Linked DNA regions of Homo sapiens: region 1 is reported to be linked to region 2. The links are microRNA targets in miRTarBase. Many come from high-throughput screens and were not tested one by one. Region 2 holds a microRNA gene; the other region holds the end of a gene's coding sequence.
What was found. The annotated mature microRNA hsa-miR-548h-3p reads CAAAAACCGCAAUUACUUUUGCA and lies in region 2 at 1,470-1,492, shown strand. An mRNA with a match to its seed (bases 2 to 7 or 8) in the 3' UTR can be bound and repressed. Matches are read on the target gene's strand: a 7mer-m8 pairs with bases 2 to 8, a 7mer-A1 pairs with bases 2 to 7 and ends in A, and an 8mer does both.

Region 1: miRTarBase lists UNC93A as a target of hsa-miR-548h-3p. Seed matches in the 3' UTR shown: 7mer-A1 at 715-721.

What each region holds. Positions count from the first base shown.
Region 1 is chr6:167,315,061-167,319,060 of GRCh38, forward strand. UNC93A (unc-93 homolog A) reads left to right here. Exons shown (of 8, transcript NM_018974.4): 8 at 127-954. The coding sequence ends at 392. Among named protein-coding and RNA genes, the nearest start is that of TTLL2, 8.0 kb to the right of the region's middle. RefSeq lists an enhancer at 1,610-2,405.
Region 2 is chr8:27,046,213-27,050,362 of GRCh38, reverse strand. MIR548H4 (microRNA 548h-4) reads left to right here and starts at 1,400; the gene lies at 1,400-1,510.

The sequences.
Region 1 (4,000 bases), not on the chromosome of region 2:
TGTGAAAAAAGAAAAATGTCTTGATTTAGTTGAGAAAATGGGGCAGTGGGAAAGCTGTGCTCTTTTCACAAACAGGGTCACTGTGGGGCCCATGGCAGAGCTCTCACTCCGCTCTCTCCTCTGCAGCTCTCTACGGCGTTCTGTTTGAGAAGAGCAAGGAAGCTGCCTTCGCCAATTACCGCCTGTGGGAGGCCCTGGGCTTCGTCATTGCCTTCGGGTACAGCATGTTTTTGTGCGTGCACGTCAAGCTCTACATTCTGCTGGGGGTCCTGAGCCTGACCATGGTGGCGTATGGGCTTGTGGAGTGCGTGGAGTCCAAGAACCCGATCAGACCCCACGCTCCAGGACAGGTCAACCAGGCAGAGGATGAAGAAATACAAACAAAAATGTGAGAGCAGTGAGGTCCGAGGAGGATGAACTCAGAAAGCACCAGCCAGAGAATTTTCTTAGAAGATGCCTCAGGACATAGAGCGGCTCCTCATCACCATCTCAGCACAATTTGGCCATTCTGAAGAGATCATGTTATTTCACTCTTCATGTATTTTTTTTCTATTCTAACAAATTTTTCGTCCACCATCTTAACAGAGATCAAGTGTATACATGAAGGTATCAGTTCATTTAATTTTAGATGCAAAAGAAAAAGGTCTAACGTACAATCAGCCAATTAGAATTTGCCTGAAATCATAGACTCACCCTAGTTTTATTGCTGTAGTTGTTTTTAAGAATTGGAAGCCTGCTTAAAAAATGTAGTTGAGCCCCATAATTTTACAAATGGGCGAACTTTTAAACTTCTAACTCTACTTGGATCAAAACCTCATACATTTTACAAAGGGGTCCTGACAAGTCAGCTGACTCAACCTCACAGAGTCAGGGGGTGACAAAGCCAGACTGGGGCTCAGGATTCCTGAAACGTGTGGGGTCTGCGTTTCTAAATAAAGACGGTTATTTAATGGACTTACCTCCTGCCCAAGTACTGTTGTGCTAAGTACTCACATAGACACACACACACGCTTCATCACATCAGTGCTTTAGTGTGCTGTGGCCTTCGCAGACCTTCGAGAGCATTTCAGGTGAAGATGCTACATGTGTCTGTTAACATGGAAAATGGTGCCGGGCACGGGTTGGGTGATATTTGCCCATCTCACAGTCATCGTCTTGTCCCTTGGCACCTGGTCTCCTCTCTCCCTTGTTCTTCCTAGCAGCACTGCCGCCTGCCCATCTCCAAGGCTTCTTCCTTGTCCACTGCACTCAGGTCCCCAGGCCCTCCCCAGCCCTCCCCCATTACTAGCACCACCTTGCCCAGCCCCTTCCCGCCTCCCGCTCATCCTCTCCCACAACCCACCCTCCCCGGCCCTACCCCTGCCCCCCCCACCCCTCCCCAGACCCCTTCCTGGCCCCTTTCCTACCCTCCTTGGCACCCCCCCACCCTTCCCCCACTCCCGTGCCCTCCCCACCCCCGCCAACCGCCTTCCCTGCCCCCCCCCACCACCCTCGCTTCCTGGACCTGCCCCGCCCACCCTGGACCCCCCCCCCCACCCCCTCACTCCTGGGACCTCCCTGGCCTGTGGGCCTGGAGCTTGGGATCTCTTTTGTCCTTTAACCCTAAGCTGCTTCCTTCCCCTTCCCTTCCTCTTCCTCCCCCTCCCCTTCCCCTTTGGTTCACACTGAGGCTTCTTCTAGACCTTATGTGTCCTGTCTGTGGCTCTCCCGCTGCATGTTGTTCGTTTATTGTTTCTACGAGCATCTCCTCCTCCTGGAAATTCAGCTTTCCAGTGTCTAGTACACAGCACTAGCAGGTGCTTCATATGTGCAGAAGGAAATGGGCCTCTCTGTGAAATTCCAAATACTTCCTTCACTCACCCTCATTCATTAGGATGCTGGCTGCCTCTGGCCATGGGAGGGGGAGCAAATGCCTCCTGGCCCTGGCCCTTTCTCCTTCTAGTCAGTGTCAGCCAGGTGCCCAGACGGGCGATGATCAAAGGCAGAGAAAAGTGCAGCTGCCACGAGCTAATGCTTCCTGGCCTCTCAAATGTTACCTCTCAAGCTTCCCCACGACGAGCTGGGCATTTTCTCCCAACTGTTAGAATTCCCCTGATAGCCCAGTGTCTCTGACCACCAGCAGCCTTCTTCTTGTTACCCAGGCTCATGTGCCCTTTATGTGCCACTCTGTCCCTGGCCTGGCTGATCAGGGAGGAGGCCCTGCCATTCCTCCCCCAGGCTGCCGATCCTCTGCCTCCATTCCATTCCCTGTCGATCCTCTGCCTCCATTCCATTCCCTGTCGGCTGCTTCCTGGTTCATTGTCCTCCCTGCAGGGCTCCTCTTATCCTCCATCCGGGCTATTGAGAGAGGGATTTCACTAAACACAGGACACTTCACCTCCAGCGCCCATCTAAAGAGCACAGTCTTACCCACTGGCCGGGACAGTCCAGGCCTCCGTGAGTTAATCCCAGCTGCCTCTCTAGCCTTCCGTCCGTTTCACCAGACTTCTCTGTCCAATGCTTCTGTTAAATACCGAGGTCCTTCCCTTATGGGCCCTTCGCTCATGCTGTCCCTGTGTCTCTATCCAAACCACGTTTATCCTCCCAGACCCAGTGGAATGCCGTTAACTCTTTGCAGGCTTCAACCATCTTCCTAAAGCTGGGCCTCTGCACTCTCTAATCCCTGCCCTGCTTTGTCCTCCCCTTTCCTGCCTTGCACCACGGGCTGCCTGGTGCCATCCCTGTCTGTGGGATCCATGGCCGTCTTGCCCAGCGCCATGCCTGTTTGTGGGATCCATGATGGTCTTTGCAGCTCCCACAACAGGGTCATGTCAAAAGGAGTCAAGACTGGCTAGGGTATTTGTGTAGAGGGCGTTCATCGAGGGTAAGGTGACATGTCATGTCCCCTCCATTTGGAGGTTTAGGATTTTGTGAATTGATGATGGGCACTCCTGGTGCTCCTCAGGATAAGTCTTATTTGGAACTGGTCTTTGGTTTCTCAGTCTGCTCAGAGCATTTTGAACCCTGTAGACCCTAAGTCAGTAGGAACTCCTTAGACCTTCGGGGGTAGTGAGGCCTTTGCAGAATGTCTTGGAGACAATGAACTAGGCCTGCTCATGAGGTGTGGGGGGCACTAAGGAGTGAGCCCTGGGCCTAAGGCTGGAGGGGAGGACCCAGAGGTGAGAGGAGTTGGGGAGTGCATGTGCATTTGTCCAAACCAGTGTGCATCTGCGTGGCTCCAGCCGGCCGTTCAGAAGTGAGGTGGAGCAGGGCAGCCTCTCCAAGTGCTCCTGGGACAGAGAGCTTGCTAGTTTAGAAGAGTCCAGTTGGGGTTGCAGGATCATCAGAATTCTGCTCAGAGACTGAGCCATGATCGTGTTCTGCTGATGTTGATGCTTACAGGAAAGTGCCAGACTCTGTGTGACAGGAGCCTGAGCCTCCTCTGAGTCACTGGAGGGGTTCAATTGAGCTCAACGGAGGATCTGTGTGACAGGAGCCTGAGCCTCCTCTGAGTCACTGGAGGGGTTCAATCGAGTTCAACGGAGGGTCTGTGTGACAGGAGCCCGAGCCTCCTCCGAGTCACTGGGGGGGTTCCGTTGAGCTTGACGGAAGGTCTGGTTGTTGGGTGTCCATGTGGAGCGGCCAGCTGGACCTATGAAGATGCCCTCAACACACAGCATTTCCCACTGCTATGCACCTGACCAGCGGCTTGTCTGGACAGCCAGGCTCTCCCTGAAGGTGGCCGGTGGCATTGGGGACTTTTCTGATTTCTTCATCCTTTGCATTTTGGAACTGAAGCATTTGTGGCTGCGCCCAAGTGCCCTGGTGAGAGCCTAGAGAAAGAGCAAACCAGATTCTAATCTCTTCCTGGTCCCGGGGGGAGGGTGTGTGGCTGGGTCCCTGGGTCGTATCGGTATTGCCAGCCCAGCACGTGCTTAGCGGGAAAGTTGAACAGTAACCGGACTTCAAAGCAAATTTTTGGTTTTTCGGGTCTCCAGATAGCATTTATTTCAATCAGATC
Region 2 (4,150 bases):
GCAGAATACAAAAGGAATTATTTCATGCTGCATTCAGAGGTGTCATTCATACCCAGGAAGCACTTTTAATTACCAATCTGGTGTTAATTTTCTTATCTGTGTCTCATCTGTGACTAAACATTATCCAGCCCAGGCTGATAAATTCTGATATGAATCAGATATTATTTCAAATTTATGCTTTAGCCATACCCATGTAAGCAGTCTCCTACCCCATATATCTCATTTACAGAGACTGTTTATTTGTAGTTAACTTTTAAAAATTCAGATTCATAGAATTACAACTATAAATTGCCAAACATGTATAGAATTATTATTATACAGAAAATAATATCAGTGTCATTATATCCAATTAATCTTTCATTCAGAATCTTGTGCAGAACAGATTAAATTGAGAACTTAATTTTTTACACATTCACGATTTAACCAGAGAATGTGGCTCTATTTTATATTAACAAATAATTTCTTTGTTTATTCAATAAGCAGTATTCATTGTATTATTAAAAAATGGTCTACTCATAAGGTTTTAAAACAATTGAGTCTATTTATTTCTTTTCCCCTCATGTGTTAATATTTTTTTTGCCTAGTGCTTTAGAAAATATATGACCTAGAAAGCAGCCTAATTCTTGTCACAGCTGCAACCTTACTGATGCAGAAAATTTGGCATTTATATACAATGAAGCTGTCTCTAATGCTTTGTCCACCTTCTAGAATCCCCTTTGTTTAATTACTATGTTTGGAGCCTCAAAAAGGGCCTGCTTTCAGGAATAAGTGGATGGGAATGAGGGGATGCTGATGTGTGAATAAAACGGTGATATAAAAGAAAATGGCTAATTCCCCCCTCTGGCTGAAGTCTGTGGAGGTTGTTCTGCCTGTCACTGATAGCTGTGTGAGTCAGTCTCCAATTTGGGAATTACAATCCTGACCCACCCCCACACCAGGATTGCCCCTGCTACACGTTTCCATGGTGCCAAACTTCCCTGTCCTAGCACGTGATGGCAATTGCTTCTGCTTTCCCTGATAGATGTGCAGGGTTGGGGACAATGCTTGCCTTCCCAGAGTCACATCAATATCTCGCACAGAGCTGGCACATGGCGGGCCCTTCATAAATGCTTGTTCAATGAAAGAATAAAGACAGTTTAAAATTTGAGCTCATTTCTGCCTTTTTCTTTTTAATAGCTTTATCAAAGTATAAATTGATAGACAGAAAAACCCCACATGTATTTCATGTGTACAATTTGATGAGCTTGGGTATACATATACACCCATGATATCATCACAATCAAAATGATAAACATATCCATCGCCTCCAAAAGTTTCCTCTGCCCCCTGCTTTTTGTGGCAAGTGTACCACAGAAAACTTGAAGCCAAACTTGTGATCCTTCGTTGTTCCATTTCCAAAGCTATTAGGTTGGTGCAAAAGTAATCGCGGTTTTTGTCATTACTTTAATTACTTTACGTTTCATTAATGACAAAAACCGCAATTACTTTTGCACCAACCTAATACTTGCTATCATCACTTCTTGTCTATTTTCCATTCCTCTTATAAATGTTGTACAAACTAAATCACACTTAAATAAAATAAATGGGAAATAAAGAAAAAGGAAAAAAGGATGAATGCAGGGAAAAAACACTGCCTGGGTCTGTCTTCTGTCATTCCCCAAAATAACAAGCACAAGCCCTGATATTCATATTCCCAGCATTCACCAGTTGCCCTTTTTTTTTTTTGAGATGGAGTTTCACTCTTGTCGCCCAGGCTACAGTGCAATGGCGTGATCTTGGCTCACTGCAACCTCCACCTCCCAGGTTCAAGCGATTCTCCAGCCTCAGCCTCTCGAGTAGCTGGGACTACAGGTGTGCACCACCATGCCTGACTAATTTTTGTATTTTTAGTAGAGATGGGGTTTTGCCATGTTGGCCAGGCTGGTCTCAAACTCCTGACCTCAGGTGATCCGCCAGCCTTGGCCTCCCCAGATCCTGGGGTTATAGGCGTAAGCCACCCTGCCCGGCCCAGCTGACTTTTATCTTGAGTGACAGTTTTAGAGAAAGGAGGAGGAGGAAATTAGTATATATGGCAGTAGTATGACATTTCATGATCTTAAAAATAGATTTCACCAACTGTAGAAGGTGTTCCCTAAACTAACTGCCTGTGTAGTCTTAATCTTCTCAACGTAACAACAGGTAGTCCATATTGTGGCAGGGTTGGGAGGTGGTGATGGAAAGGGGAGGTGTGAATTCCACAAGGTCTGAGACTGGGACAGGAAGTCTCCATTTTGGCAGTGCTGGTGGGGTAAGAAAGGGCTAATTAGAAGAAAATGCAGAAGCTGAAGTTGAAAGATCAGGCAAAGGCAAAATACTGGTCTAGTAGGAAGTCCAGATCATGGTCAAGTTGGATGGCTTCAGAGGGAGCTATTCAGATGGGCTCCAAAAGTGTCAGCGATCTTCTCTGATAAGCTACCCAAGCTCAGGGCAGGGATACTGATGCTCATTTTATGGTAAGAGCCAGCAAATGAGATGCACTGATTCCACGTTTGTGGATTCTAAACAGCATTTTGCCTTCCTTCTCTATAGTCCTCTTTGCAGCACTCCACGTTACCACCACGGGCATCCCAGATGTTCCTCCTTCATAAACACCTCTAGTTGTTCGCTTTCCCAACTCATCCCTTTTCCCAGCCTCAAGGAAGATAAATCAGTTTTGGGCATTAACTTCCATCCAGTGCACTGGGCTGAGGAATCAGCATGGCTGATTCTGCTATCACTTTCACGAAGCCTGGGGGCAAATGAGGGGAGTAGGGAGGGGTTGGGACCAGGGCACACACATATTGTGAATCTAGGAAGAATCTTAGGATTAAAGCTGTTGCATTTTCCACTTGTATTGAAGCCTTGGGGGTAATGGCTATCCCTTTACCACACTCTCCACCTGACTAAGCTCTCTTCAGCAGAACAATCAACCCAGGCTATGGCTGACTTCATCCAGGGAGACCTAAATTTTTCCATTTACTAGGACTTCTTGGACTTTTTTTTTTCTTTTAATAACCATATAGTCAGCTTTACCCACAATGCATCACCTCTTGTCATCCTCAGACACAACGTGAGACATAAGTTGCACTGACCAACTGAATCCTTCTAGTCTCATCCTCTCCTCTGAGATCTTCCTACTGCTTCTTTTACTATTAAGTCCTCTAGAATCCCTATGCTATGAAAAACACAATCCATACAATTTCACCCTGAACATCTCCACTTGGACACAATAGACATCTCAAACTTAACATATCAAAAACAGAACTCCTTTTTTTTTTCTTCTTTTTTTTTGATACAGGGTCTTACTCTGTCATCTAGGCTGGAGTGCAGTGGCGCAATCTCGGGTCACTGCAGCGTCCACTTCCCGGGCTCACGCGATTCTCTTGCCTCAGCCACTTCAGCAGCTGGGATTACAGGTGTGCACCACCATGCCCGGCTAACTATTGTATTTTTAGTAGAGATGGAGTCTTGCCATGTTGAGCAGGCTAGTCTCGGACTCCTCAAGCCATCTGCCCTCCTCAATCTCCCAAAGTGCTGGGATTACAGGCATGAGCCATTGTGCTGCCCTAGAATTCTTTATTCTATTCCAATCCTTTCCCCAATCTATTTCTGCTTCACTTGGCTTCCTATTATTGAACAGTTACACCATTCTTCCAGCTGCTCAGGCCAAAAACTTTGGAGTCATCTGTGCTATCTTTCTTATTTTCTAACCCACATCTAAGTCCTCAGCAAGTCCTGTTGACATTTCCTTGAAAAATACAGCTCAAGTTGAACTGCTTCTCATCACCTCCACAGCTACCCAGAGGAAGCTGACGTATGTTCTCCTAACTCAGCCCCACTTTTTCTGTTTTTGTTCACCTATGCTCTATTCTGTTCCCAGCTACTGAAATGATCCTTTTTTTTTGAGACAGAGTCTCGCTCTGTCGCCCAGTCTGGAGTGCAGTGGTGCAATCTTGGCTCACTGCAAGCTCCACCTCCCAGGTTCACGCCATTCTCCTGCCTCAGCCTCACGAGTAGCTGGGACTACAGGCACCTGCCACCATGCCAGGCTAATTTTTTGTATTTTTAGTAGAGACGGGGTTTCACTGTGTTAGCCAGGATGGTCTCGATCTCCTGACCTCGTGATCAGCCC